Linked DNA regions of Homo sapiens. The protein of the gene in region 1 interacts with the protein of each later gene in a pairwise test. Each region holds a gene or a part of one and is shown in the gene's direction. Other genes may lie near its edges. The genes, in order: ACBD3, TBC1D22B, TBC1D22A and ERRFI1.

Evidence for each region.
Region 2: the proteins of ACBD3 (region 1) and TBC1D22B interact in binary tests that used the Homo sapiens proteins (3 or more experiments, as listed by UniProt).
Region 3: the proteins of ACBD3 (region 1) and TBC1D22A interact in binary tests that used the Homo sapiens proteins (3 or more experiments, as listed by UniProt).
Region 4: the proteins of ACBD3 (region 1) and ERRFI1 interact in a two-hybrid assay, tested with the Homo sapiens proteins (one study listed by BioGRID).

The regions. Positions count from the first base shown.
Region 1 is NC_000001.11:226,143,872-226,149,189, reverse strand, and holds the end of ACBD3 (Golgi resident protein GCP60), read left to right. Parts: intron 1-1,121; exon of another isoform or gene 1,122-1,187; intron 1,188-2,368; coding exon 2,369-2,580; 3' UTR 2,581-4,511; downstream 4,512-5,318. UniProt on the Homo sapiens protein: Involved in the maintenance of Golgi structure by interacting with giantin, affecting protein transport between the endoplasmic reticulum and Golgi. Involved in hormone-induced steroid biosynthesis in testicular Leydig cells.
Region 2 is NC_000006.12:37,330,772-37,333,470, forward strand, and holds the end of TBC1D22B (TBC1 domain family member 22B), read left to right. Parts: intron 1-272; coding exon 273-401; 3' UTR 402-2,199; downstream 2,200-2,699. UniProt on the Homo sapiens protein: May act as a GTPase-activating protein for Rab family protein(s).
Region 3 is NC_000022.11:46,757,947-46,766,083, forward strand, and holds the start of TBC1D22A (TBC1 domain family member 22A), read left to right. Parts: upstream 1-4,703; 5' UTR 4,704-4,840; coding exon 4,841-4,902; intron 4,903-5,795; exon of another isoform or gene 5,796-6,340; intron 6,341-8,137. UniProt on the Homo sapiens protein: May act as a GTPase-activating protein for Rab family protein(s).
Region 4 is NC_000001.11:8,015,987-8,023,741, reverse strand, and holds part of ERRFI1 (ERBB receptor feedback inhibitor 1), read left to right. Parts: intron 1-3,668; exon of another isoform or gene 3,669-7,755.

The DNA.
Region 1 (5,318 bases):
GGTTGAGGTAATGTATTTCTCCTGGCTTGCCTATTAGAGAGCTTCTAAAAGGTGGTTACTGCCTAGTCTGAACCCTCAGCTGATGATAGTTTTGGGGTTATATTGGTGTTGGGAAGATCACTAGTGAAAATGGCAGGGGTTCATTTCTAGAGGTAAGAACCTTAATATCCTTGATCTTAGTTCTAATATGTCCCTCAAATGAAAGATGGCATTCCCTGTACTTGTACCATTCCTAATCATAAAATGATTTGCAGCTAAAACATTTTAGCCTCACAGCAGTGAAGCTTTATCATTCCTAAGAATTGTTCATTACATGAGCGTCACTTCATCCCATTTAAAGATTTAGCTCACAAATTGTATTTGTCCATATGCCTTAGAAGCTACTGTCCTACCGTGTCTTGTATTTCATATGGTAGAAGAGTCTGAGTTTTTTGGGTTTTGGTTTGGTTTTTCTTCCTTAGGTCTTGAAAGGTAGACAGAGGAGTTTGCTTTCTCTGAAGAAGCATGGATGGTAACACATCCTCCTGTTTTAATTCTCCATTTTCTTCATTGTTTACAGGTCCTAAACCTTGGCTTAAATTCATAAAAGATGCCTTTTCATCTATCCCAGTAATCTTTAGTTTTATAGATTTAAAACAAAATTTGAGTCTTGAATCAATGGACCAGTCTATTTCTTGGATGTCAACAATAGTGTACATTTTGGATGGTTCTGTATTTCTCATTTGCATGTGAAACATGCTTAATTATAGGTATTTCTGTGGTTAAGTAAATCTGGTTTTGACCTACCTTTATAAGAGTGCCATCTGCTTTTTTAAAATAAACTTTTAATTTTAGAATAGTTTTAGATTTACAGAAAAGTTACAAAGATAGCACAAAGAGTACCCATATACCCTGCACCAAGTTCCCTCTGTTGTTAGCATCTTACATTGTACTGTGGTGCACTCATCACAGCTAATGAAACAATATTGATACATTGATTCATTAATTAACTAAAGTCCATATTTATTCAGATGTTTTTAGTTTTTACCTAATGTTCCAAGATCCTTTCCAGGATGCCACATTATAGTCAGTCATCATATCTCCTTAATCTGCTATAGACGGTGAGAATTTCTCAAACTTACCTTGTTTTAAATTCCTGATAGTGGCCATTGACAAGCATCACTCAGTGTGTTGCCAGAATTCACTCTGCCATGTTATAAACCTGAAAATCCATGCCTGTAGTCCCAGTCTCTTAAACAAACAAACAAACAAAAACAACAACCATAAACCCGAAAGTCTTGTCTTCTGTGCTGAATACTCCCTTGACCTCTTTGAGCTGGTTTGTATTAAATATGTTAAACTGTGACTTCGAAGCTGGTTCATAATTTTCTCATTCCTGTAGGTTTCTAGAGGCATTTTTTTTCCTAACCTCATAGCATTACAGTTCAAAAAACTCTTAACCGGGGCAAACCTTTCAGAGCCCATTTTTTGCCACTTAGATCATCTCTGGGTTAAATTGGCCTAGTGAAAATAATTGAATTTTCAGAGTATCTCTGAATGCCTATCTCTCTACTATGATTTTTTCATTTTACTGCTTATATTTAAGATATACAGAAAGCAATAGTCCTCACAAATCATCTTCCATCTTTCTAAAATGGGGAGGACTCATATTGGTCAGAAGGAGGATGATGAGAGCAACATTTTCATGTTACTCAGATGAGTGAAATTCCTGAGGATGAATTAGGAATTGAATGGCTATGGAAAGGGGAAAATGGGACCTTGAAATAGGAATGGTAGTAAGCACAGAAAGAGATAGGATGCTGACCACTGCTACCACTAGATGTTCATCACTGGGCTCCCAGGGCTCAGAACAGGGTTTGGTGTATAGCACATACTTAGGTATTTGAATGAATGAGTGAATGAATGAATGAATGAACGAACTAATAAATGCTCACATGCACATAACTTGTTAAATGGTTCAACAGAATTCCCAACAAGAGCAGTTTCTCAAAGAAAGGATAGGCTGGGCACGGTGGCTCACGCCTGTAATCCCAGCACTTTGGGAGGCCGAGGCAGGTGGGTCACAAGGTCAGGAGATTGAGACAATCCTGGCCAACATGGTGAAAGTCCATGTCTACTAAAAATACAAAAATTACCTGGATGTAGTGGTGCACGCCTGTAATCCCAGCTACTTGGGAAGCTGAGGCAGGAGAATCGCTTGCACCCAGGAGGTGGAGGTTGCAATGAGCTGAGATCACGCCGCTGCACTCCATCCTGGGTGACAGAGCAAGACTCTGTCTCCAGAAAAAAAAGAAAGGATAGATTTTAATTGCCTGATGCAAGTGTGGTTTTCCTGAATCTGTTCATTGACTTGTCTCTGTTCTTACAGAAAACATCGGTTGTGAAGAGAAAGCCAAAAAGAATGCCAACAAGCCTTTGCTGGATGAGATTGTGCCTGTGTACCGACGGGACTGTCATGAGGAGGTGTATGCTGGCAGCCATCAATATCCAGGGAGAGGAGTCTATCTCCTCAAGTTTGACAACTCCTACTCTTTGTGGCGGTCAAAATCAGTCTACTACAGAGTCTATTATACTAGATAAAAATGTTGTTACAAAGTCTGGAGTCTAGGGTTGGGCAGAAGATGACATTTAATTTGGAAATTTCTTTTTACTTTTGTGGAGCATTAGAGTCACAGTTTACCTTATTGATATTGGTCTGATGGTTTGTGAACTCTTGCTGGGAATCAAAATTTCCTTGAGACTCTTTAGCATTCATACTTTGGGGTTAAAGGAGATTCCTCAGACTCATCCAGCCCTTGGGTGCTGACCAGCAGAGTCACTAGTGGATGCTGAAGTTACATGAGCTACATGTTAAATATTTAAAGTCTCCAAAATAAAACACCCCAACGTTGACCTTACCCGGCTGATGGTTAGCCCCTTGCTGCCTGCTCCATGTGTCTTATGAGAGCCCGTAGTTACAGTGTCCTCTAATTTGAAATCCATAAGTTAACAAGTCTATATCAGGTGCAGCTGGCTTTGATTAAAGGCCATTTTTAAAACTTAAAAACTCAACACCTCACAGATTATAATAGAAAAAGAAATGGCCTCAGTTTGATCTCGTTCAGAATGACCCAGATTGTTTCTGCTTTGGGTGCAGCTGTTTAGTTCAGAGTTATATTACAGAGAATTATTTTCTGAGATAATCTTAAACTAGAATGTTCAAAACTAATTGATAATTGAAGTATCAAGATACGTAGAACACCTCAGAGATTTTTCTTCAGGAACTTCCACAAACTTTGAATCCTTGTATCTTTATTTGGTATTCATACTACTAGTAGCAAAATACAGGTTTTTTGTTTTGTTTTGTTTTGTTTTGGCTTCATAGAGTATCTCAAATTGAAACTTTTCTGCACAAAGAATAAAATTAAGGATTTTATAAACTCAAATTGGCACCTACTGAATTAAAATACATAAAATCATTTAAATATAATTCAGCATATGGGAAGTAACATTGCACTAATATGGAAATCACTGCCAGAGACAGTCTATTTTCTTTTAATTTGTTACTACTTAGTCACAAACCCCACATTATTCCAGTTTGGAATTACTTATTAAGGAGAATTGGAAATACATATGCCCATGCTTAAATTTTATAGCTTTAATTTGTGTTATTTCTTTATTGACGGGAAGAGGTACATCTTTTTTTCCTTACTGAAAACAAATATGGATTAATTGCCTCAAATTTGTATAAGTGATTGGCTAGTGATTCTTGTTTTCAGAAGGGAGAGTGGTATAGATAGAAAATGACAAAGATGGCAATATACACTTAATGTTGTTATTGTATGTTGTTACTGAAGTACTTAGATTTTTAAAATTTCAAATCCTAAATCACTTCTTGTAGGAGGGTTTTCATTAACTGCAGTATATACAGTTCACTACATATGGGTTGTTTGAGTTTTTTGTGTGCTGTATTTCTTTCTGTTTTTTAATACCTGGTTTTGTACATATCTAACTCTGTTCTCTTTTGGTTGTTCAGAAACTGGATTTTTTTTTTCTTAAGCAGTGCTTAATTTGTGTTTTTTAATTTTGATTCAGAAGTAGTCCCAGCTCATAGGTGTTCATACTGTTACATCCAGAACATTTGTCAGGCTCTCTGTCAGCTTTCATGTACATATGGTATAGAAACCATGGAGTTAGGCACTTCCTGGATTTTTTTTTTATGAGAAAAATACTGTATTTAAAATGTAAAATAAACTTTTAAAAAGCAGGCACTAATATATATTTCTTCCAGCCTTTGATTACAAATTTGTCCTTGCACATGTTAAGATGAATTATCTCCTAAAAATATCATTGTTCTTGGGAGCAGTGTATGTTACTTTACATAGCAGCGGTTCCTGTCATGTGTTCATGTCAGAATATTTTTGGTTTTAAACTTTCTTATTGCCTTTGGCTGTTGATTAGTACAGTACAAGTGCGATTTCAAAAAGATCTTGAAAGTAATATATTTAATCAATTAAAATGTTTATCTGTAACTTGTTGATGTTTCATTAATATAGTTACTCTCTGAAGCATTAGTACAGTATTTCAACATTTGGGTAGGAGAAAAAGAAATGTTTCAAACATCTTTTTTGTTTTAAAAGGCTCTAGTTGAAAAACAACTCTTTCTGGCCAATTATTTAGTTTTACTATTAATTACCTTAGTGAGTTAAAATAGATTTAAATTTTTCCACACTTTTAAATGCAAAGGCTAGCACTGATTTTTCTTATTGAAAATGACTAGGTTATAAAGTTGTTTCTCTACACTACCATGTATGTAGTGTGTTCCATTAAATATGTGGACCCCACACACTTTAATGGATCTCCAGAGGCAGAGCCCTCGCTTGCTCAGGGTGGATGATTGCAGAGCACTTGTGGGGAAGTGCGCGATCAGTGTGATGTGGAGTCCCAGAATGAGGTTGCTACATCCAGATGACCCCACTGATAGGCAGGGTGACTGGCATAATTTTTTTCTTTTGAAATCTGGGGAGACAGATGAGGTGACCATCTTGGTTATTTTTGCTGTGTGGGATACCATAAAGCCAGACTGAAGACGCATTAAGGAGAGCAGTTGAGGTAAGCACATCTTGGAAAGTATGCTACCGAGTCTTGACCATCTATCTTTTGGAGCAGGAGAAGCAACCGGTTCAAAATAATAAATAATTGCTAATAATTCATTAGGGCTTAAAGTTCAACAGTCAGGGGCCGGGCGCGGTGGCTCACGCCTGTAATCCCAACACTTTGGGAGGCCGAGGCGGGCAGATCACGAGGTCAGGAGATTGAGACCATCCTGGCTAACACGG
Region 2 (2,699 bases), on another chromosome or scaffold:
ATCTTTATTGTTGTCATTCCCTATTTATGTTTTTTATGTTTTTAAAGAGACAGGTGTTAGTGGACTAGAGAATCAGCAGAGGCTTTCAAGACCTCCTGAGGTGAACTAGGACTGAAAGCTGTGTACTGTTTGGGAGGAAGGAGGCTGGACTCTTTGAGATGTGTGAGCCAGGAGGAAGGGGCCCCATTCTAGGCCTTGGTCTCTAAGAATGGGTTCACTTGTCTGATGGTCTACGGTCTGGTATGATATAAAAGTCCTTTCTTGCATTCCAGGGTCTCCTCATGCTGCTACAGAACCTACCTACAATACACTGGGGCAACGAAGAAATTGGGCTGCTTCTCGCCGAGGCATACAGACTCAAGTACATGTTTGCCGATGCCCCAAATCACTACCGCCGATAGGTGCTGTCTCCTCCGGGGACCCAGACTGCCTTCATCTCTGATGGCAGTCTGATCACTGTGGCCACTGTGCGAGCCGTGGACCCCGGCCAGGAACCACTCCTGTTGTACAAAGCTCACACCCACCGCCCAGGTCTTAACTTTCTGGCATCCACCACTCCATGTCTCTGGATGTGTCACTTGGACCACTGTCAGTATTCCATGCCGCGTGGATGGGCCCAGTTCTGGGAGAGGACAGAAAAGGTGGTACAGGGTTGTCTGCCCCTTTAAAAGAAACTGGACAAAGAAGGGGAAGGCTCAGGGTCTCACCTCACATTGTCCCTACAAGGACAGGCCCCAACTGATAACCGTTGCTTTTTTTTTTTTGTGAACATAGTTTGATTTGATCACAGGTCAAAAACGCCTTATATTTTCGAAAGACTCCTGGCCCCTCTTCCCTCTTCCTGGTTTCCTAGCCGTTCCCCTTCTGCCCCAGTCTGAGCCAGTGAGGGGTAGCTTTTTAAAACCATTATTCTAGATGGAGGAGGCACTGATGCTTGTAACTCTGGAAAGAGGCCTACACCCAAGGGCTAGGAATTTTATTTTTCCTTTTCTCACCAGGTGTCTGCATGTGTGTGTGGGTGTGAATGTGTATACATGCCCATCAGCATTTAGTCACATGTCTGAATTTCTGTGTCCAGACGAGCCCCATCAAACTAGTTGGGAAGGGCCCCAGTGACCAAGTGTATAAGCATCCCTTGAAGAGGGATTGGGGCAGGGGAGGCAGAAGGGGCTCTCCAGACCCCTTTTCCATGATGACCCACTCCAAGATATTATGTGTAAATTGTGTTATTATGTATATGGGTAAAGATGTACAAATATATGTCCTCTTTGTAGCAGATATGATTTTATATTTATAATGTGCATCAACATGTGAAAGCAATCTAGGTCACTAGCACAGAGGAAGTTGCCAGGAAGGTGGCTTCAGCACCTCCAGGTTGGTTCTGGGTGTCCTGCTGTGAGGGGTAGAACGGGAGGCTGCTGAAGTGAGTAGCTGAGCAGCTGGAGCCATCCCAAGCATCAGTGTCTCAGAGTCCTCCTCGCCCCTTTCTTCACCCCGCCCCCCAACCCCCAGACTTTCCTGGAGCATCTGCCCTTTGCTCCTAGCAGCCTCCCCAGGAAGGGACTGCAGAGGCGGGCAAGCCCTCTCTATGTGTTTTTATCCCCACCTTCCCCGGAATCTGGGGAGGGCTTTTGTTTTTACGTTTTCAAGTTCAGCATTGTATTCGGACAGAAGCTGTGACTGAAGACTCAGTGCCAAGGAAAGGGGCTTCTTGTGTGTCCCTCGGGTTTGGGGCTCTTCTCAGAGAGCAGCACTCCATATCCCTTACTGTCACCTTCACTCCCCACACAGCTCATGAGATGTGTGACCCCTGTTTGAGTTTTGGTATTTGGTAGTGGAGGGTGGGGGGATGGGGGCCAGCAGCTGTCATCCTCCTGGGAAGCCGAGCAGTGTCCCTGGTGGGTAACACCCTCAAGTCTCTTTGCCAGTGAGGCCCCACCACATCGGTGTGAGTTAGGTTTCTCATCTGGAGCTGTTTCTCAGGCATTCTTCCCAACCCTCTTCCTTTTCCCCTTCGGTGTGCCTCAGTGGTCTCCTTCATAGAGTGAGAGGGCTTGAGACCCTCCCTCAACCGGACTAATTAAAGAAAGACACTTGTGTTCCCAAGTGGTGGTTTTATTTTTTTAGTTTTTATGTTTGTATGGGAAATTGTGGATAAAGTGAAAAGAATTGTAAATAAATGGTGTATTTCCTCCTCCATCTGCTGGTTTTTCTCCTGTATGTGTCCATGGAACCTAAAGAGTCTCCTCTTTTTGAGTTTTTCTTGCTGATACTAGTAGGTGTGTGGTCAGGCCTTCTGTGAGGTGAGCAGGGCATCAGCAGAGGATCAACCAGCAAACACTTACCCGACATCCATCTATGAAAGGTACTGTGGAAACTACAAAAATGAGTAACTTGGTAAATGAAACTACTAAAAAGAGTTAACTTGCCAACCACTTTGAGAAGCACTTTACATGGATTATTTCATTCATCTAAAAGAAGTATGTTATCTGATAGAGGGTAGAAAACAGACTAGAATTTCAGTGCTGGATGAAAACTTGGAGATATCTAGTTTAACCCCCTCATTCGCAGAGGAAAATCCAAGCCAAGGCCAAGGAAGACAGCATCAGAGTCAGAACCAGAGACCCGGTGTCCTCCTGGCTTGCCTGTTCAGTGTGTTTCCACCAGAGTAGAAAGAACTAAGATGGCCGCCATGTAGG
Region 3 (8,137 bases), on another chromosome or scaffold:
GCGCCACTGCACTCCAGCCTGGGTGACAGAGTGAGACGCCGTCCCAAAAAAAAAAAGAATACAGAGGGTGGAGGTATGACAGCTGCAGCAGCTAGGTCAGCTTTGAGCCCCTGCCAGAGTCAAGAACCCTTGCAGAACTCTGGCTGCTGGGTTTGTGCAAAGCCTCCTGGCAGTCTTAGGAAACTCAGCAGAAATTGGTGAGGTGTTTAAGTGTGCTCTCCTGGAATTGGTAAGCAATGTATAGTGCTCCCTTCCCGGGGACTGATACTAGTTCACAGTATTTCTGCTCTCTAGCATCCTGACTAGAGGTAAGCACATGATCCCAGGGGCCCAACAGAGGCATCCTGTGACCTCAAGGGGAAGTTGTCCTTGGCAAAGACTTAAGAGACTGACAGAAGGAGACAGGCCCCTTGGGTCATTGTTGAGCTGCTGTATCAGCCCTTCTCCAAACCTTCTGAGCTACTTCTGGGCTTTTTCATTAACCAACTAATTCCCTTTGTAGTATAAGCTAATTTGAGCTGAACTTTGTCATTCTTGCAACCAACAGCACCCTAACTCATCCTGACTTAGTGTCAGGAAATGGCACGTTGCTAGTCCCTGTAATATAAAAATGGCTGAAAGGAGTTGGGGAAGGGGGCAGTGAAGACGACGCCTGCCTCTCGCGGTGTGAAACTGGGGACCTTTGCTATATGCCGTCTATTATTGTGGTAGGCTGAATAATGAACCCCTGAAGATATACCAGGACTTAATCCTGGGACCTGCAAATGTTACCTTAAATGGCCAAAGGGAGTTTGCAGGTGTGATTGAGCTAAGGGCCGGGTGATGGGGAGATCAGCCTGGACCGGATTATCCAGTGGGCCTGACGTGAGGTCAGAGGGATCTAGGAGGAATCGGAAGGAGAGAAGATGATGTGATGATGGCAGTAGAGATTAGAGTGATCTGCTTTCCAGACAGAGGAAGGAGTGTCGGCCAAGGAATGTTAAGTGGCCTCTAGAAGCTGAAAAAGGTAAGAAACTGACTCTCCCCTAGAACCTCCAGAAGGGGGCAGCCTTGCTGACGCTTTGAGTTTAGTGCAGTGAAGTGCTAAGACTTTGGACTTCTGACCTCCAGGATTGTAGGAGGGTAAATGTGTATTGTTTTCAGCCGCTAAGTCTGCAGCATTCTGCCAACAGCAGCCTTAGGAAACCAATACAGATAGAACAGTCAGCTTTTTACTTTGGGGCACAGGCTCGGTGCCTATGGACGGTACAGCACCAGGAAACTTAGGAGGCAGAACCCACCAAGTGGGAGTGTGGCAGCTCACTCAGTAAGGTCCTGTGAGAGATATTCTAAGCCCGGAGCAGGCCATCTGAAAGCAAAGAAAGCAGAAAACACTTCCCGAGGAACCCAAATGGCATTGCAAATCCAGCCATCCTGAAATACTATCCCAATTTTTTTTTGTTTGTTTTTTTGAGGCAGGGTCTCACTGTTTTCTAGGCTGGAGTGCAGTTGTGTGATCCTAGCTCACTGCTGCCTTGAACTTCTGGGCTCAAGTGATCCTCCTGCCTCAGTCTCCTAAGTAGCTAGGACTAAGAGTGTTTACCACCATGACTGGCTAAAAGAAAAAAAAAAAAGTTTCACAGAGATGGGGTCTCCCTATGTTGCCCAGGCTAGTGTTGATCTCCTGGTCTCAAGTGATCCTCTCGCCTCAGCCTCCCAAAGTACTGGTATTATAGGTGTGAGCCACTGTGCCTGGCCTGCTGCACTTTTGTTTGCCTTATCATGTAGTTCAATGTAGCTCAGTGCATAGCACAGTTCAAACTCAATAACTATATTTTAATGTATTATGAAACATTTTATACATGTAAAAACTCATAAAGAATATAACCAACACCTGAATATAGCCCATCTGCCTTAGGAAACAAAGCATAATAGCACAATTGATCCGCTATGAATGAATTCCTTCCTGTTCACAGTCCCCACCTGTACCTATAGGCAACCACCCTCCTGAATTTATCTTTTACCATTCTGGTTTTTTTTTTTTTTTTTTGAGATAGGGTTTGGCACTATCGCCAAGGCTGGAGTGCAGTGACATGATCACAGCTTGCTGCAGCCTCAAACTCCTGGGCTCAAGGGATCCTCCTGCCTCAGCCTCCTAAAGTGCTGCGATTACAGGCATGAGCCACCATACCTGGTCGCATTCTCATCCTTTAAAAGAAAATAGTACTAAATGGTATCATACCATGTGAATTAATATTCAACTTTTTCTCATTCAACACTGTGGAGTCAGGTGCGGTAGTGCTTGCATCTGTACTCAGCTACTCAGGAGGCTGAGGTGGATCACTTGAGCCCAGGATTTTGTGGCCAGCCGGGGGAACATAGTAAGCCCCATTTCAAAAACAACCCCACAGTTTGCAAAATTCATTTATGTTGATGTATGCAACTAATGTATTCATTTTTACTAACTTATGGTATTCTACTGCATAACTGTGTAGATTATCGATTCTGCCATAGATGGCATTTTGGTTGCTTCTCCCCCAGACCCCAACTACCACTAGAAGCAACGTTGCACTGAACATTCTTGTGTTTGCACGCATAGGCAAGGTACTCTAGAGCACATACCAAGAGTGGAATTGCTAAGTTATAGAGTATCTTTGCTAGAAATTGCTAAGTGGCCATCCAAAGTTAGTGAATGAACGTACACTCCTACTGGCAGTGCAAGAGAGTTCTGCTCTGCTCACAAATCCACATCCTTATTAAGTTTGGTAAAGACAGGTTTTTAAGTTTTTGCCAATCTGTTAAGTGTAACATGGTATGTCCTTAGTTTTAATTTGCATTGCTGCTCAATACTTGTTGCAAAAATGAATAAAAAATGTTCCATTCCATACCTCTGGGATTTGAGAATCTGTCCCAATTCCTAGGTCCCATATGTAGACTCCAACATCTGTATTACTTTGGCTTTCAAAACTGGCCTTCTACTCAGACTTTCTTTTTCCATCTTCACGTTTCTGTTGTGATCCTAGTAATCCTTTGCTTAGCTGGTTTTGAAGCCTTCAAGTCAATCTCAGCCTCACTCCTTCGCCTGAAAACAGTAGCTAGCAAAGTATACGGTAAGCTATAAAAAGCACCCGGATCTAAGGTGTAACCAGTCACTAAGTGCTGCCAGTTTTTCCTCTGTCAATTGTTTCAGTTCTTCCTTCCTTTCCCCTTCCATCAGGTTAATCCTGCTGTCACCTCGCTCACTGGTTCTTGCAATAAGCCAGACTGAGCTGGAAAGAACCGCCATGGTCCTCAGTGTTGTCTGTAGGGGACCTCACTGTCTGAGGCTGTCAGGGCTCTGTCAGGAGGAGACCCCTGGGGCCTTCTGAGCCCTACTAGGAGAGGATTCTAGGAGAGTAGGACGCCTTGCACATAGTAAGTACTAAGTCAATGTTACTTACCAGTAAATGAAGAGGCATGGGAAATTGTTATTATTTTTGAGACGGAGTTTCGCTCTGTCGCCCAGCCTGGAGTGCAGTGGCACGATCTGGGCTCACTGCAAGCTCTGCCTCACGGGTTCACGCTATTCTCCTGCCTCAGCCTCCAGGGAAATTCTTAATCAGAAAATATGTCTTAGATTTTTGTTTTAAAAGAGAACTGGCAGGAGCTCCAAATACACTAAAGCTCCAGTCTGAAATGACAGTCCCTGAGCATTCAATCTTTGGTCTAAGAAGCACAGAAATGTAATGCAAACCAGACACGGTTTTTTTAGTGATTTTCTGCACACACACACACACACACACACACACACAGTAAAAAGATCTAGTCATAACGTGTGCACCTGCAGTTCCAACTACTGGGGAGGGTGAGGCAGGAGGATCACTAGAGGGCAGGAGTTCGAGACTAGCCTGGGCAACATAGCAAGACACCCACCCCCAGTCCCCCCCGGAAAAAAAGAATAAAAAAGGTAAAAATAATTTTAAAAAGAGTAAAAGGAATGTAAAAATAATTTTAATGCATTTTATTTAATCCAATACATTAAAAATGTTACCTAACATGCAAACAATATACAAATTATTTTATACGACGTCTTTGGAATCCTGTATTTTACACGTAAAGCGCATCTCACTCCGGACTAGCCAGGTTTCAAGCACGTGATAGCCGCACAAGGCTGGAACCCAGGCCTGGGGAATTAATTCTTGTCCTCGGTGCTCAAACCATTCTTCCCTTCAAGCCTGGCCTAATCCCCAGTCTCTCTCATCTCTTCGAATACGCTCCGCGGTTATGCCCCTCACCTCACTGCACTGCAAATATTTCGTCCACTGAGTATTTGCTGATCGTCACTCAGTGCCGGGTGACCCAGCTTGACCAGCACCCGCAGCCGCCCTGCCACTGTTGGGCCGGGTATGGTGTGTCTGGCTTCCCTCTGTTCTGGGCCGGCTCCGAAACGCGCTCAAGAGAAATCGGAATCAGACACGGGGCAGTTCAGCTTTGGAAATGAGGAGCTCGAGGCTCCTGGGAGTCCGTTGCGGGCAGGTGGGCGCCGCTGTTGTGTCGGGAGAGCCAGGAGCGACAGACTCAAACTCAGAAACCCAACCACCTCCGCTCCCTCCGCGATGCGTGTAACGTGCGTTGCGCGGCGTCGCCCTTTAATAACGACGGGCGCTCGGAGTGCTGCGTCACTCGCCACCAGGGACTTAGGCGGGACTTCCGGGCGCGCGTAGGCACAACTTCCGGAAGGAGGCGGAAGAGCTTCTCGGCTCTAGGCTCTGGAGTCCCGGGAGCAGTGAGGGGCCACCCGGGGCACAGGAAAGGGCCGCTAGGGGAGGGCCGGGTGCACTCGGGGTGTCTGGGCCGCGGGTCTGAGGGATGAGGAGGGGCCATGGCCAGCGACGGGGCCAGGAAGCAATTCTGGAAGCGCAGCAACAGCAAGCTCCCGGGCAGGTGGGTGTGCCGCGGAGGGCCAGGTCGGGGTCAGGGGTCAGAGGTCAGGTGGCCGCGTTGGCCTCCTGGGCTGCGGGTGGAGTCGGGGGTCTGGAGAGGGCAACTTGGACTCTGAGGAGACTGCTGGATGGTGTGACGGGCGTTGGGGGGCTCGGAGGTCGGAGCGTGGGGTCTGGGGGTGACAGTGGCTGCACGTAGGATCGAGGCTTGCAAGGACGAGGAGGAGCTATTGGCGTTTTTCCTGACACTGGCAGGCTTCTTTCCGAGAAACTCCTGGGCTCCTTGGGGAGGCTGGAAGGAACTGATTCGGGTCATGCTGTGAAGTTTGGTGGAGTCCGGAAGCTGGCCGGGCTGAGGCCCCCCGTCTGCTGGGTGGATCAGTTTCTGCAGGGGGTGTGGTGTTTTTGACCCACTTGATTTGCCTGTGGTCTCTTGAGGGCTGCGGCTCTTGCCTTGAGCATAGAAGAGGACTAGAGTTTCCCTGTGAGTTTCCATGTTTCTGCTTGCTGGTGTCAAAACCACCTCCTATGTTGTGTTAGCAGGAAGTTTTTTTTTTTTTTTTTTTTTTTTTTTTTTTTTTCTTCGGCTGGAATGACCTGGGTACACCCTAGATGCTATACAGCTCCAGAGCTCCAGAGTCCTTGTCTGATTGCTGTGGCGCTGAGCTATGCCAGGGCCCTAGGGAATGAGACATTACGTGGAGGGTACCTAGGATAAAATCAGCCACTGGTGAAAACAGATCAGAGATAAGCAAACGTCAAGATTTCAGAACATAGTTCTGTTCCAAAGCTGAAGTCTGGAATGCTGAAAATTATGAATTGTGTTACGAAGATAAGTCTGAGTAGAATCATTCATAAACACAGTAAAATGGTTTGTACTCCTGTTTCATAATAAATATTATTGTTTGAGTGTTTGAATGATAAACTTTGGAATTTACTGCATCCAGTTAGAAAAGTTTACTTTTGGCCAGGTGTGGCGGCTCACGCCTGTAATCCCAGCACTTTGGGAGGTCGAGGTGGACAGATCACCTGAGGTCAGGAGTTTGAGACCAGCCTCACCAACATGGAGAAACCTAGTCTCTACTAAAAATACAAAATTAGCTGGGCATGGTGGCACATGCCTGTAATCCTGGCTACTTGGGAGGCTGAGGCAGGAGAATCACTTGAACCTGGGAGGTGGAGGTTGCAGTGAGCCGAGATCGTTCCATTGCACTCCATCCTGGGCAATAAGAGCGAAACTCTGTCTCAAAAAAAAAAAGGAAAGTTTACTTTTAAGAGTGATCTGGGGGTTAGCAGCGTGAGTTACTGACAGCTCAGACAGTGGCTTTGAGAATGAAGGGAGTCATCAAAGGTGGCCGGAGACCCTATTCGACTCCACAGGACCGTGCTTGATTCGAGAACAGTAAGACCTTTCAACAAAACCAGTGTCAGGGTCCAAGGTGAGTGAAGATTCTGGAATGGTGGTGGGTAGGAGGTCCTGGTAGTGACAGGAACAAATGCTGTAGAACATAAGAGTCCAGGGAAGAGGAGCCACATGACAGTGTAACTTTTATGTGTTACTTTTAGGTCTTAAGGTTTTGGTTCCTCATCAGTCTAAACTCTAATTCTTAATCAGCTTAGATGTAAGAATAACAGAGCTGCTGTGTGGAGTTACAGCAGTGACTCAACCTTTGGATTGAAGGCTGTGGCTCTTGGTAATTTGTCCTTATACTGAGTTGAATTTATGTCCATCTGGAAACTATGGATGTGACATTTGGAAATAGGGTTTTTGCACAAGTAATCAAGGTAAAATGAGGTCATACTGGATGAGGGTGGGCCTTAGTTCGTCAACTAGTATTTTTATAAAAAGAGGGAAATTTGAATACAGAGAGACACACACAGGGAAATGGCCCTATGGAGACAGAAACAGAGATTGGAATAGTACATTTACAAGCCAAGGAAAGCCAGGGGTTGCTGGCAGCCACCAGAAGCTAGAAGAGGCAAGGAAGGATGCTCACCTAGAGACTTGACAGAGAGCATGGCCCTGCAGATGACCACTTGATTTTGGGTTTTTGGCGTTTAAAACTGAGAGAGAATAAGTGTCTGTTGTGTTAAGCCATTCAGTTGGTGGTAATTTGTTATGGCAGCCACAGGAGACTAATACAGTCTCCAGCTTTCTTCTGTGTGAACCTGAAATACCGAACACCAGCTTTCCTTTTCCTCTGACTTTGATGCTATTCTGTGTCTTAGGCACTTTTGAGAGCAGCTTCTGTATTACCTTTGTGAAGTTGGAGTCTTGGAGAGTTCGAGGCTGTCACTGAAGAGGGCAGAAGAAGAAGGAGAGGTTGGGTGCACCAGGAAGGCCTGTGAAGCCTCTGTGTCTCCCATCCGTCTTGTGGCTCAAGCCTCTGGCAGTGCTGCTCTTTCAGGTGGCAGGCTGGAACTCTTCCCTGAAGGAGGAGTCACAGAGGGGTGCCCGTTTTCCTATCAGTAGTGGTGATTGGTCACTAGCTGCGTATTTATTTAGTCCACACCTATGCAAGCACAGTGCTAGTGGAGATCCTAGCCAGGTTCCTGTGGCTTTGGCAGCTCTTTCAATTGTTTCCCATGATTGTTTTCTTTCTTTTTTTGTTTTTGTTTTTGTTTTTGTTTTTTTTGAGATGGAGTCTCACTGTGTTGCCCAGGCTGGAGTGCAGTGGTGTGATCTTGGCTCACTGCAACCTCTGCCTCCCAGGTTCAAGTGATTCTCCTGTCTCAGCCTCCCAAGTAGCTGGGATTACAGGCGCCCACCAGCACGCCTGTCTGTTTTTTTGTATTTTTAGTAGAGATGGGGTTTCGCCATGTCGGCCAGGCTAGTCTCGAACTCCTGACCTCAGGTGATCCATCCACCTCAGCCTCCCAAAGTGCTGGGATTATAGGCGTGAGCCTCCATGCCTGGCCTTGTTTTCCTCCTTTTTTTTTTTTTTTTTCTGAGACAAGAGTCTCTCTCTGTAGTCCAGGCTGGAGTGCAGTGGCATGATCTCAGCTCACTGCTACCTCCACCTCCTGGGTCCCGGTTGAAGCAGTTCTCCTGCCTCAGCCTCCTGAGTAGATGGGATTATAGGCACTGGCCACCACGCCCAGCTAATTTATGTGTGTGTGTGTGTGTGTGTGTGTGTGTGTGTGTGTGTGTGTGTGTGTATTTTTTTTGAGACGGAGTCTCACTCTGTTGTCCAGGCTGGAGTGCAGTGGTGCGATCTCGGCTCACTGCAAGCTCC
Region 4 (7,755 bases), about 220 Mb from region 1:
ACTGAGGGGGGTTCAGATTTCAGAAGGTGGTGGGGAGGATTCTCAGATTTCAAGTCTTTGTTGATACTGTAGTCCAATTCCTCACACCATAAAATTGGGCAATATTACGAAAAGACCACTCTTCCAGGTCTCAATGAATGTGTCTTTAAAATGTGGGGCTTTTGGCCGGGCTCAGTGGCTCAGGCCTGTAATCTCAGCACTTTGGGAGGCCAAGGCGGGCAGATGGCTTGAGCCCAAGAGTATGAGACCAACCTGGGCAACATGGTGAAACCCTGTCACTACAAAAAAACACAAAAATTAGCTGGGTATGGTGGCACACGTCTGTAGTCCCAGCTACTCAGGAGGCTGAGGTGGGAGGATTGCTTGAGCCTGGGAGGCAGAGGTTGCAGTAAGCCAAGATCACACGACTGCACTACAGCCTGGTGACAGAGTGAGACTCTGTCTTTAAAAAATAAACAAACAAAAAAATGTGGGGCTTTGGCTACAGAAATGGAGCCCTTTTCAACTTGGAAACAATAGGAAGGTAAGGATTGGAAGACATTATCCAAAAGCTCTTATTCAATACCCCAGATGTGAAACTGGACTAGTTACAGATTGTTTTTTAAACAACTATTCGCTCAGTAGAATTGTCTTCTGACTCTTATCAGGGCTGCCTCTTTTTCAGCCTTTAGATTTCCATTTAAAAGTCACCTACTCAGAGAGGCCTTCCCAAACCACCTGTGTAAATATATGCTCCTCTGCCTCCTTATCCTATTGCTGCTGTACCCTGCTTGTTTCCTTGGAAGGTATCGCCATCTAAAATTGTTTGCTTGCTTGGCTATTCTCTTCCTCCCTCATTAGATGGAAGGCTTCTTCAGGCAGCAGCCATCTCTATTTTTCACCTCACATGGTGTCTAATCCAGAATAAGCACTTGATAAATATTTGTGAAAAGAATTAATCCTTGCCCTCTAAGAATTTTTGAGCTGAATGAGCACTATGAGTTGAGTTTCTGTTCCTGCCTCTGCTATTGACTAGCACTTAGGTCTTGAGCATTTAACTTAACAGCCTTTTGCTTCAGTTTCTCCATTTATAAACAAGAATGTTACAAGGAGAAATGAGGTTGTTGCCTAAAATGAAGATACTATAGAGTGGAGAGGTAGTGAAAGTGTGGGGAAAATGCTGGATTATAGTACAGAAGAGCCATGATCGCCCTTTTGCTTATAGCAAGATATTTAACCTCACTTTGTTTCCTCATCTGCAAAATGGAGATTCTAATCCCTGCCTCTTCTTACAGGGATGTTGTGGGGATCAAGTGAGATAATGTGTAAGAAGGTGCTTTGTAACTTGTTGAGTGCTTTACAAATATAAGGTATGCTATTGTTAAATTCCGGATTTTACAATACAGTGTGATTATAATGCCATCATTGGGATCCATGCTGTGAAAGCATGTTAAAAGGAGGCCCGTTGGGTATATGTAGTAACCGCTTATTACGAGTAAAAACAGACTTGTGTTATATGAAATAACCATGTTGTAAAGAGTTCTGTTGTGGTGGGGCATCCGTGGATCGTTAAAGACTGAGGGCTTCAAAATAGTTGTTTGAAGTGGTAATAGAATGTCAAATTGATGCCTTAACCCACCCATTTTAGAGGATACATAGGCCAGATCTACAATTAATAACTTTTAATAGGAGAATTTGAGGGAGTTGAAGTGAAACAGGAACTTTCATAGGCTACAGGTTACCCAAGAAAAACTATTACCAGTAAATCCATAAAAAAGGATCTGTGCTACCCTTACAAGTTGAGCAGTATAGTCAGTCGGATCCTACTTCGCCAGTTTAAAAAGCCGTAGGGACAGGAAGAGGCAGTGTGGTGTGTTGGTGAAGGGCCTGGACACTGAGGCCGGGCTGTCTAGTTGAAGTCCTGGCCCCATTGCTCACCAGTTTTGACCTTGAGCAAGTTCTTTAACTCTGTGCCTCAAGTAAGTGAGAGTAATAATAGTAGCCCACCTTATGGCATTGTAGAGAGGATTAAATGAGTTCATACACATAAAGCACTTAGAACCATGCTTGCCTGGCAGTTGTATGTCCAGTGAATGTTAGTTATCATTAATGGTTTTATATTAATTGTAACAATCTAGAGTTACCCATCGGGTAACTTAAATGCTTGTTAAATAAATTTGAAGTTTTAAAGACTTGCGTCCCATCATTAGACCATTGTGCTCGTTGTCTTTAGATTAGAATTCACTTTTATAGTAAGAAATAATCTATTGTTATATGTCAAAAAGAAATAATATTTTTCTCCCCTCTGTGTGTATATATAGTTACTGATTGTGCTACTCTGTAGGAGAAATACAAAGGACAAAAGAATGTATTCCTGCTATCCTACTTTTCTGCTGTCACACTAAAATTGTGTGGGAGGCTTAAGTGAGTTGAAAGACTGGATTATGGTAGTTGAGGGAATGGGTTTTTTGTTAGTTTACCATTTTTTAAAATACTTAGCTAGAAAGCATTCTGAATTATTGAATAAATTACGTCATTTATTTTTTATTTGACAGTTTGAAGATAAATTATTTTCTCTGTTGCCTCTATTTCACCACCTACAAATGGTCCATTATGTTCTGGACATGTTTAAGAGCCTCTGAGGAATGGAGCTGCAAACACAGACACAAATGTTCATCTTTGCCACACTGAACTATATTTTAATGTTTACTGAAGCCATCAAGCTTTTCTTGAATTCATGCAGGAGTATTTTAATTACATTAAAACATGGCATTATTTTAAAAGTAATCTATGTTTTTAATTTAAAGGCTACTTATGCTTACCATGGTAGAGAGTACAACTAAGGAAGTTTTCTTAACTTGCCTCCCTCTTTCTTTTCCTACCCCTACCTAAATCATAGGCTATTAAAATGAAATCTGGGCCGGGCGTGGTATCTCACGCCTGTAATCTCAGCACTTTGGGAGGCCGAGGCAGGAGGATCACCTGAGGTCAGGAGTTTGAGACCAGCCTGACCAATGTGGAGAAACCCCATCTCTACTAAAAATACAAAAATTAGCCTGGCGAGTTGGTGCATGCCTGTAATCCCAGCTACTCGGGAGGCTGAGGCAGGACAATCGCTTGAACCTGGGAGGTGGAGATTGTGCTGTGCACCATTGCACTCCAGCCTGGGTGACAAGAGTAAGACTCCGTCTCAAAAAAAAAAAAAAAAAATTGGTGTTTTTTTGTTTGTTTGTTTGTTTTAATTTCCTCACAGGTGATTATTTTAGACATTTTAAAAAATAAACATGCAGAGATTGGTATATTTGGGGAGGATCTAAAATCATGGAGTTTGTCATATTCCTAAATCAGTTTCCTTTTATAAATTTTGCCTTTAAATGTAGTTACCTTATTATCTTCCTTGGTTATGGAAGTACTTAATGTAGGTGATTCTTAAATGGAACTGAAAAGACCATTTATCACCCTGAATAAACAGAAATCAGGTTCTAGAACCAGATTGAAAGGAGGAAATTACATCACACTCTTAAATAAGGAAGCACTGGGCAGAACTGGATGAGTTGTATGACAAAAATGTGCCCCTCCTCCTCCCATGGATGGCTTCTGAGATTTATTAATGAGATCTGGTGGCCAGGTAAGCATATCTAGGTTACTGCCTTAAGGTAGCCTGCATTTTTCTTTTTTTTTTTTTTTTAAGCAGTTTCAAAGAGACTGTCCTCAAGCTAAAGGCATATGATTTCACCTTAATGAAGAAGGTGCAGTGTGCTTTTGGTGTAACTTTTTTAGAAAAATGAAAGTCACCTTAAATTCAGCAGCAAAAACACAGTCTAGAAGGAATAGTGTTTTAAGAGAAGGCAAAACACTGTTTTAAGAAAGTACCCCCCCAATTGCTTCAAGTAAATATACTGTAACAGAAACCAGTTTAGAAAGCTACACTGTTAACCACTGAAGCTTATAATTTTTACTCAGTCTACAAACTGTCTTCTTTGAATTCTGGAAATGAATTTCATAAAAATTCCTTCCTGTTACATATCCTAAGGTTGTTACATTATTATTGGGCAGTCGCCTCACTCCAGCACGCATTAACTTTATCCTTTATAAATCTGCTTCTCCCCTGAGCTCTTCACTGACTCACAGTGTATGTGAATCTTTCATGTCATTACTTTTTAAAAATGAGATGGATATTTTCTCAGTATCCATTTAATAAATAATAGACATGAATGATGCCAAGATCTACAGGGGGAAAGCATAAATCAGACATCAGTTCTGTCCTAGATGATTTGAAGAGTGGAAGGGGAATTGGGGCCCAGCACAAAATAACACAAGAACAGAGCACCGCTGCTCCAGTGTTTCATGAAAGGGAGCGGCTTCATGGAGAAGGCAGGGTAGAGCTGACCTTAAAGGATGAATCGAATTGTAACAGAGATTTGGGGAAAATAGAAGCGCGCTTGAAAATATAGATTAGGTTTATATTGTGGAGGCCCTAAATTGCCAGGCTGAGGAGGTTTTATTTAGGAGCCTTTGAAGGTTTTTTGAGCAGCAGCAAATCTTAGCTTGAGCTGTTGTTAAGGAATATTGACTTGGTACTAGTGTTGTAGAATAGGTTGCATATTGCCAGACCCCAGGAAGAATGATGCCTGTCAATGGAAGGGTAAGATTTGAGAAACCATGTAAAAGTAGTCTGTGGAACTTGGCAATTGAATGTACATGGCCTCAGGTTAAAAATGGTGCCTTGAGAAGTGTGATCCTCTTAGACCCTGAACTGGTTTGGGGAGTGGGGAATGGAGTATGAAGTGAAAGGAGGAGTTTGGTTTGTAGAGTTTGAGATGCCAGAGGGCCATCCAAGTGGAAAGATAATCACCAGACAATAGGAAATGCAAAGTTGAAGCTTGAGCCAGGCTGGAGTCATTGATTCAGGAGCTGTCTATGAGTTGAAGCTATACAAGTGGATTAATAAAAGGATAACCTCAAGAAGCAAATGATTTTAGGGCTTCTTTTTTCGTTGAATTTAGAAAAGAATCAAGTTAACAGGAAAAGGTGGTTCACATCTGAAATTTGGTATTTAACTGCATTTTAGACCCACTAAAAAAGCTAAAAATAGTTGATGAAGTTTGGAGAAGTTATGCTGAAGGTTATTTGGGTCCCCGTCTAAACCATGCTGTCTGGATTCACATTCGCTTTCCTATTCTTGGATTCCATAACATAATCCCATCTTGTACTTTTTAGATACTGATTTCCCCACATAGGTACATTTTTGCAATTGTTTTCCTCTAATGAGTTGTAAGACAGATAAAATGTGAAAAATTGGCATTAAACATCACTTGGGAAGAGTTTGTTTCTTTTTAGCTTGAGGTTGGTAAAATGGATTTATTTACTCCGCGCCCCCCCCCCCCCCGCCCCCCGCTTCCATTTGTGCTGAATACTAGAAGGTTTTTAGAGAGAGAGAAAGTTTCAGGTGGTTTCATACCCTCAGTTTACAATCTGAGAAACATTTTTTTTAAAAGCTTCCTTCCAAACCTATAGCACATTGCCCTTTTTGAGTCTACAGTTTGAAGTTATTTTCCAAAAGAAGAGAACATGGCAGTTATATTGCCCCCCTCGTCTCCCATGCTAGCAAGTAGGAAGTTCGGACAGTTTCATAACATGGCCCATTCACAATTCCCCATTGAAATTTAGAGGCAGGTCACCTTCTATGAATACACAAAGACACTATTGTGGTCAGAAGTGAGCTGGCTTAGTGAACACAATTCTTTTTATACTAAAAAAATTTTTTTCTTAAGAAAGCTAACAAGTAGGTGATGGAAACAATGAATAAAAAATAACTTTTTCTAGAACATATAAATAATTTTAAGTGACCATTGAAATGTAAGTTTAGAATTCCAAGGCAATTTCTGCAGAGGCGATAGTTACACAATCATTCTGTTGAAAGCTAAGATTTAGATGGCATTAGGAGGCTGACACACAGTAATTACTAGTAGTACTTGTTGGCTTGCAGACAGGTGGGGGTTGGGCCTGCAGAATCCCCTGCAGCATTTTCCTGTAATCTGGATGAGCGATCTTCAAACGTGTGCTTTCAAACTACTTAAATACCATATTCTTCCTATCTTGCCTTTCATTTTTATATTACCACAGATACTTTCCTCATAGTCTTGCCAGTGCTTGTAGAATGCTTAGAAAAAGCTTGATAAACCACTGGGCTAAGTACACAGAGGGAGAGGCTAGCAGTATTTTTAAATTGGTTTCTAAATTTTTTATAGCTTGATGGTAGATAACACATTTGCTTCATTGAAGTAATCTGAAAAACCAATCCTCAAAAGACCTCTCAATTAGAATTCTTAAATGACAATGTTTTCTTTATCATATATTTGAGAGATTGATTTAAAGAAAAATAATGCTTGACTATCTGAAATAATATTTTAACCCTATCATAAAATCTCTGCCTGGTAGAACAGCTGACTGTGGAAGGGTAAAATGCAGAGAACCAGTCATTGGATCTCCCTTCTCTACTTTGTTACTGAAATCTTGAACCTGTAGAACATTACTTATCACTGTGTTCCTTTCTAATGGGAAAATAATAATAAACACTTGCAGAGTATTTTTTAAAAGTTTTTAGCTTTAAAAAAAAAAACCCTGTGCCTTACACAATGTGTATATTGAGTTGATACTGATTATGATAATTAGATGGTATTATACAATCATTCATTCAGCAAACATTCACTTACTGAGCACCTACTAATGTTCCAGGTACTGATTGTTAAAAGGTGATTGAGACACAGCCTCTGTCCTGAGCTTAGTCTAGTAGGAGGTGACAGATTTGTAAATAATAGATTTGAAGTTGCTGAGCAAAAAAAAAAACAAAAAAAAAAACCTGTGTACCTCTCCCCCACAGCAAATGTGTCACATTTGCACAGTGCCCAGCCTTTGCACAGTGCCCAGCACTCAGCTGTGCAGATATTATTTGCACTGATCCCTTACTAATATTTAGTGAGAGAATGAGATCGTGTTAAAGAGTGTATATGTACGTGCCCCCAAAAGGGGTCAGTGTTACACAATAGTTGACAAATAATATCCTGGTGCCTAAGGAAAAAAACCTAAACTTATAAATAAACTTGGCTATCTGAAGACAGCAGAGATTGATGCTGACTAACACATAACGAATAATAAAAAAGGAAAGTGAAAAGGGGGCTATAGGGACTCCAGACCTGTAACATCTGACAAAGGGGATTGGCGGTCCTGAAGTTGAGGAACTACTAATTTAAGAAAAATGTACTTATTTTGTTATCCATGCCTTGCAGCTAAGCAAGATATGAGTTACTGGGTGTTTCACAAAGGAGGATGTAAAGAATGTACCTTTAACTTGTCTTTAAAAGGGAGGGAGGAAGCTGTCCCAGGCTTTTACTGAAGCCAGTAATCTTGCAGAACTTGATTTTTACAGGATAATGGAAATTAGTATCTTCATATATTACTGTTTGTTCCTTGAACAAGTAGTAACTGGAGAATTTGTCTCCCCATGGCCAACCCTGAAATACAAAATCCAGATAAATGCTAGACCCTGGGGTAGTCAGGTGCCAATACTGTAGAAACTCTTGCTTAGTTTCAGCATTGTGTTTTAGTGAGTATTAGTTCTACAGCATAAAATACAGTGGCTTCTGAAATTACTTTTTTAGCTTGGGAAAAATAAGCAGGATCCACTGGTGCTTCATGCCCAGTGCAGCCGTAACTTAGAAGGCTGGTTTAATAAGTCAGGGGAGGGTCTGTGTGCATTGCCAAGTGAGTGTGATT